Regions from separate parts of the Homo sapiens genome. Here region 1 is linked to region 2. The links come from fine-mapping of genetic effects on gene expression. A gene starts in region 2. The other region holds a variant in brackets. All regions are shown on one strand. Distances are from middle to middle. Region 1 overlaps PITRM1 (pitrilysin metallopeptidase 1). Region 2 holds the start of PITRM1 (pitrilysin metallopeptidase 1).

What was found. PIP is the estimated chance that this variant, and not a neighbour inherited with it, causes the effect.
Region 1: its variant is fine-mapped to the expression of PITRM1 in esophagus muscle (GTEx, PIP above 0.99). The same link has a PIP of 0.9 or more in uterus.

What each region holds. Positions count from the first base shown.
Region 1 is chr10:3,145,570-3,148,481 of GRCh38, forward strand. PITRM1 (pitrilysin metallopeptidase 1) reads right to left here. Exons shown (of 27, transcript NM_014889.4): 17 at 2,602-2,722; 18 at 2,418-2,494; 19 at 2,003-2,168; 20 at 1,581-1,681; 21 at 27-147. PITRM1-AS1 (PITRM1 antisense RNA 1) reads left to right here. Exons shown (of 4, transcript NR_038284.1): 4 at 1-2,912. Among named protein-coding and RNA genes, the nearest start is that of PITRM1-AS1, 5.4 kb to the left of the region's middle. The variant C/T (reference allele first, on the strand shown) is at 1,619.
Region 2 is chr10:3,171,024-3,173,935 of GRCh38, forward strand. It overlaps PITRM1 (pitrilysin metallopeptidase 1), which reads right to left and starts at 1,759. Exons shown (of 27, transcript NM_014889.4): 1 at 1,694-1,759. The coding sequence starts at 1,749. RefSeq lists silencers at 1,284-2,123, 2,414-2,573 and an enhancer at 2,772-2,912.

The DNA of each region.
Region 1 (2,912 bases), 25 kb before region 2:
CGGGCGCCAGCACCACCAGTGCATACCTCGACCGTGTGTGGGCGCACAGGCCTCCGTTCCTTTTTACTCCGACCGATGCTTCTAAGGAAGTCTTCGACCGCTTTTTCTGTCTGAGGCATCTGCTGAGGAGTCGCATTCACTGAACACCTGTTTGAAAAATTATGTATACATAAAACCACTGTTAGAAAAAACAGTTTTAGTAATTCATCACATTTTGTATAACTCAATAATGTTGTTTTTATAGAAAATACTGTTCAGAGTGTTAAACAGCAGCCAAATGTGGAAATGCCACGGCCGCCTCCCTGCTCTTCAGTGCTTCAGGTTATCAAGAGATTTCCGCACAGTTCAATGTGGCAGCTAATGAAGCCGTCCATACGCGGAGCCTGTGACTCTAAACTCTAGTTCTTCTGAAGAGCAAAGAAAATACAGAGACTATTAAGATCTGCTAACCGTGCCTTCGGAATTACACTATCAAAACACTGACAACTTTTAAAATTACTGTCCAGAAGTCATCAATTTGAAAATGTGAACTGGTTGTTAAAGCAGAACATTATAAACTGCAAAAAAATACCATGCTCTCAAAGTTACATGAAAATAGAACTCTTCCAAATTCCACAGAATTGCAAATACTACTATCATATAAAAGCTACTTGAACTCTACAGTATATTGACAGAGTGTATATTTTTTCCTTTCAGCTGTAAATCCTGAACTTATTCTAGTTAAAGTAACAGCAGGTACCATTATATTAATACTAACTATATCCCAGGCATGTATGCTGCCTTGCAGATATTCTTTCTTTTATTCCTTACGATAAACCTGCAAAGGAAGGTTTTATGGAGGAGGAAGCAGAAGACGCAAGTGGGTCAGCTGCCCAGGACCGCCTGGGAGCGAGTGTGAGTGCTGACCCGGCGGCACCAGAAGCCAGGCCTGCCTGAGCCCAATGCCAAGAGACCCTGATCGCCAGGCTTCACCTCTGGCCACCCACAGACCGCCCTGTAGAATCTGCCAGGGATTCTCAGGACATGACTGGGGAAAGGCATCAGGACTCTGTGTGAAGAAGGACAAGTGACTTCAGCAAACATTTTCTTGTTAAGTACTGATGAATACATCAATGTCACTGACAATAAGATGCTGAAAATAAACAATCATTTTTAAACTTTATTCATGCTCACACATCTGAGGGCATAAGGCCAACTGAAGGTATAGGACTGAGCTGCCAGATGTTTCCTCAAAGCATCACATAATTTTATAAGAAACTGCACTTTTACTCTGGTCTTCAGCAAGCTCACCTTTACAGATACCTCAGTTACGGACCATGTGCTTTTGGAAGCAATATAACTACTTGCCCTCAATCTATTTGCACTTCTAGCACAAAATTAGCCTGCTTTCTTCCCCATCTCCTACAACTTTTAATAGGCTTAAAATATTTTCTTAGTTTGTTAGAACACTTGACATTTACAATAAATTCTATAACCTTTACCAAGCACTCTATCTTGAAGTTTCTACAAGTAAGAAATACCTAAAAACTATACTTAATAGAATGAATCATAAAATATTTAGAAACAAATCACACATGCACCTCATATTATCACCATTTAACAAGTGTTTCTTGATACG[C/T]GGGAGCTTCCTCAGGATGGGTTTGATATCTGTCATTTCTGCAATCCTCTTCATCAGCCGCACCTAAGCCAGAGGAAACTCGCTCAGAGAGAGGCAGAGGCTACAACAGACCCGCTGAGTCTGAACCAAGCACCTGTGACATCAGAACCCTGCTTGGGCAGGGGTTATGTGTGCGAGTGCACGGCTTGGGCAGGGCTGGAACTGGGATGCAGGGTGGTACAAAGAGGAAGATGAGTCAAAACCAACCAACCAATTCTTCCCCATATTTAGTCAGTTAGAAAGTTAGCATTTCTGGGACATAAATTAATGTATTCCCAAAGAAATTAGTAACTCTGGAATATGTGGCTAAACCGGAGTAATAGAGGTTCCTTCCAAGCTTCCCACCTGATCCATCCCGCTGAAGGTCTCCTGCAGGTCCCCTGCGGGCGTGAGGGTCCGGCCTGCCCTGATGGATGCGTACAGGTGCCCAGAGTCAGGAATTCCATTGGCGAGCTCCTGGGCGGTCATCTTCACCAGCACCTTGAAGTGCTCCTCTTCTTCAAAGCACGGGCTATGGAAAAAGGAGAAGAAAAAATTCCTGGAGACCCATTCCTCACGTCCCTTCAGTATCATGGAAAGTTGATTAAGTTTTCAGAGTACTTTAACAACCAAAGAAATTTTATAAGTCCATATGAACTACAAGTAAAAGTCAGACTTGGAAAACAACAACACACACGAGTAAAACTGTCTCCTTTAAAGTACTTCAAACAAAGATCTCTAGTACACCCCAAGAATGGACAACTCTTGCAAATAAAGTTACTTGTTAAATATTTCACTCCATAGCTGCATCATGTCTGGCAGGTTTCGATCCAGGCAGAGAGAGGAGAAAAGCACACCCTGAACCAAAGAAAACACAGAAGAAAGGAATTAGGGCCGAATCGAACAGTGACAGACACTGGAGAAAAGCTTCCCACCGCAGCAGTCGTCTGACGGTACCAGGCTACCTGCTCGTAGGTGTCCATGTGTGAGTCGTCGGGGAGCACGTGGGGAGAAGCACTCATCCCTCCGGTCTTCAATTCTATCTGCTGAGCCTGCTCCCGGTAGTCAAGAAGGCCGCAGCCCAGCCTGACACAGCAGAGAAGCATCGCCCCGATTACAAGTCAGTCTTTACTGAATCATTTTTAAAATCGTGCATCTTGAGTTACAAGTTGCTTCCATTAATTCAATAACTGCGGCTTTGCCAACCTCTCTACACTTCGAAGGTCATAAGCAGGTGCACTCTGGCCTTCGCCCTCGAGAGTTCATGTGCCCCCTT
Region 2 (2,912 bases):
CCTTACACTGCGGCCCCAGCACTCACAGACAAAAATGTCAGCACGAACCCTGACAGTCCCAAACTCAACTCACCCGGAGGTGTATCGACAGAGAATGGATAAAGTGCGGACTAATCGTTCAATTAAAAAAAAAAAAAAAAAAAAAAAAAAAAAAAAAAAAACCTTACCAATATAAGGGCCTACAGTGGCATGTAACAAAGATATGGGTCACATAACGTGAAACAAAAGATACACATGATACAGTATTATCCTAAACAGGTATTATTCAAATAGGTAACAAGACATTGTCAGAACGCATAAAAATGGTAAAATATTAAAAAAAAAAAAAGCAAGGACATTTCTGTATGTTATGACCGTGATAATCTAAGAGGGAGGGAGAGAGTTACGAGCAGTTAGGGGAATCTTCAACTTGGTCACAGGGACACTAATTTTCTTTTTTGAGACAGATCTCACTCTGTTGCCCAGGCTGGAGTGCAGCGGTGCAATCTCGACTCACTGCAACCTCCACCTCCCGGGTTCAAGCAATTCTGTCTCAGCCTCCTGAGTGGCTGGGACTACAAGTGCTCACTACTACGCCCAGCTAATTTTTGTATTTTTAGTAGAGACAGTTTCACCATGTCGGCCAGGCTGGTCTTGAACTCCTGACCTCAAGTGGTCTGCCCGCCTTGGCCTCCCAACATGCTGGGATTACAGGTGTGAGCCACCGCGCCCAACCTATTTCTAATAATTATTCTCACCTGAATGAGATGGCTCACACCTGTAACCCCGCAATGCGAGAGGCTGAGGAGGGGGATCAAACCAGCCTGGGAAACAGAGCAAGATCCCTGCTCTTAAAAAACACGTAATTATTATTCTCTCCAATTGTATTATATGTCGTATGGGATTTTCTACATTAATGTATCCCACCGAAATATTTATTTTAAAGATAATATGTACAGGAAGAAAAAACCTATTCAGTCACTGGCAATATTATGAAGATATGCTATAACCAACATTTGCTTACTGATTTAGCAAATTTCAGAATTATGGGACAGAAGCGTTTTAAGAAGTTACTTATCAAGGACATGATAGGAAACTCCTGAGCGGTAAGGCCAGGCCGAACTCATGCCACGGACGCCCCGTGCCTCCCGGCCTGGGCCGGCAGCGCTGAACTATTACCTTATATTAAACACGGGCTCGTGGATTACCATGAACACTAAACTGCTTCGTCATTTTTTTCCCCATAAATTGAGTCATTAAAAAAACAAAACAGTTCAATTCCGGGAGGCGTCAGTTCTCTGAACACAGCGAGACTTTAAGTATGGGCTGTGGGCGCCTCGGGTCTCTTAAGGACTCGGCCTCCCAACAAAAATGAACTAGGAGCAAAGCTGTCAGCGAGAACCGCAAATGCCGACCCCATTTACTACCCCCGTTAAAGCCCACGCTAATGGAGGGCCCCGCCGGGAGCGCCGCGGGCAGGCCCGGCCCCCAGCCCGGGGCATCGCCCCTGGGAGTAGGAAGGAGCTCCGAGGTCCTCCGGCCTCGGAGCCTCGGATGCGGGAGCTCCAGGAAGGGCTCGGGGTGCGGGACGCCCACAGCTTGGGGAGCTGCCAGCCCCGGGCGCAGGGACGAGGACCCCTACGCCTCCGGCCTGCCCTGGACCCTCCCCTCCCGGGTACCAGCGCGCCGAGCGCCTCCCGTCGCAGCGTCTCACCCGCCGCTCAGCCGCCTCAGCACACACAGGCCCTGCCGCCCGCCGCAGCGCCACATTGCGCATGACGAGCACCTGGCTGGCGAGGAACCCCCTCTTAACCCGACGCAGGGCGCGGGGCGGGGCTTGCCGTGACAGCTACCACTCCTATTGGTCAACGCGAACAGCGACGTCCTCTGCGATAGGCTGTAGGTGAAAAGGGTAGGCCTCCACTGCTCTGGGACGGGCGGGAGGGCGGTGCGGACGGAGATGGGCGGGAGGGGCGGGGCCGACGTGCCGAAGGAGGCGGGCAAGGCGAGGGGCGTGGTACGGGTAGAAAGGGGCGGGGCCGTCTTGCCGAAAGGGGCGGGGTTCGGCCAGCAGCAGGATGTGGACAGATGATAGGAGGGGGAAGTGGGCAGGCGAGAAGTGGGGCGTGGCGAGAGGCGTGTGTATGCAGATGAAGTGGGGCCTGGTGAAGGGCGGGGCTGCGCTGGTGAAAAGAGGGGCTCCTGGAATGGCGTGCTGTGTTGGGTGGGGCTGTGCAAGTGATGGGAGGGGCTTAGCGAGGGGTGGCTCTTTGCAGGTGAGGAGTGGAGACCAGTGGGAGAGGGGATTGCAAGTGAGCTGAGCCTTGGGGGCGGGGCTTGCAGGTGACAGGGTGGAGCCTAGTGGGCGGGGATGCAAGTGAGCTGGGCCTTGGGGATGGGGCTTGCAGGCGATGGGGTGGAGCCTGGTGGGGCGGGGCTGCAGGTGAGCTGGGCCTTGGGGGCGGGGCTTGCATGCGAGAGGTGGGTCCTTGTGGGGGCAGGGCTGGCAGAAGTGGGTGGGGCTTGGTGATGGACCGCGGTGTTCAGGTGAGGGTAGTGGCCTGGTTGGGGGCTGCCGGAAGCTGGGCCAGGTGAAACTTGGTAGCCCTCTCTGGCCTTGGTGTGGGCGTTGGTCCTGTTTGTAGGGCTGAGCTGAGCTCCAAAGGCGTTCTGCTGCCCCGCCAGGCCTGAACCTTGGGGTCTGGGGGCTTCTTGGATGAGATCTCAAGGCTGCATGGCAGGTCCCAGGGCCAGGGCCCCACGGTGTCACACGTATCACGGATGGCCGCCAGCGAAGCACAGCACAGCTCCGAGCTGCTGCATGGGAGCCTGTGGCCCCCGCTGCTGCCTCCGCTTTCCTCTTCGTTTCGTGTCTAGGAAGATGCACCTGAGCCCCCTGACATTGCCCAAGTGCCCAAGGGCCCTTCTGGGAA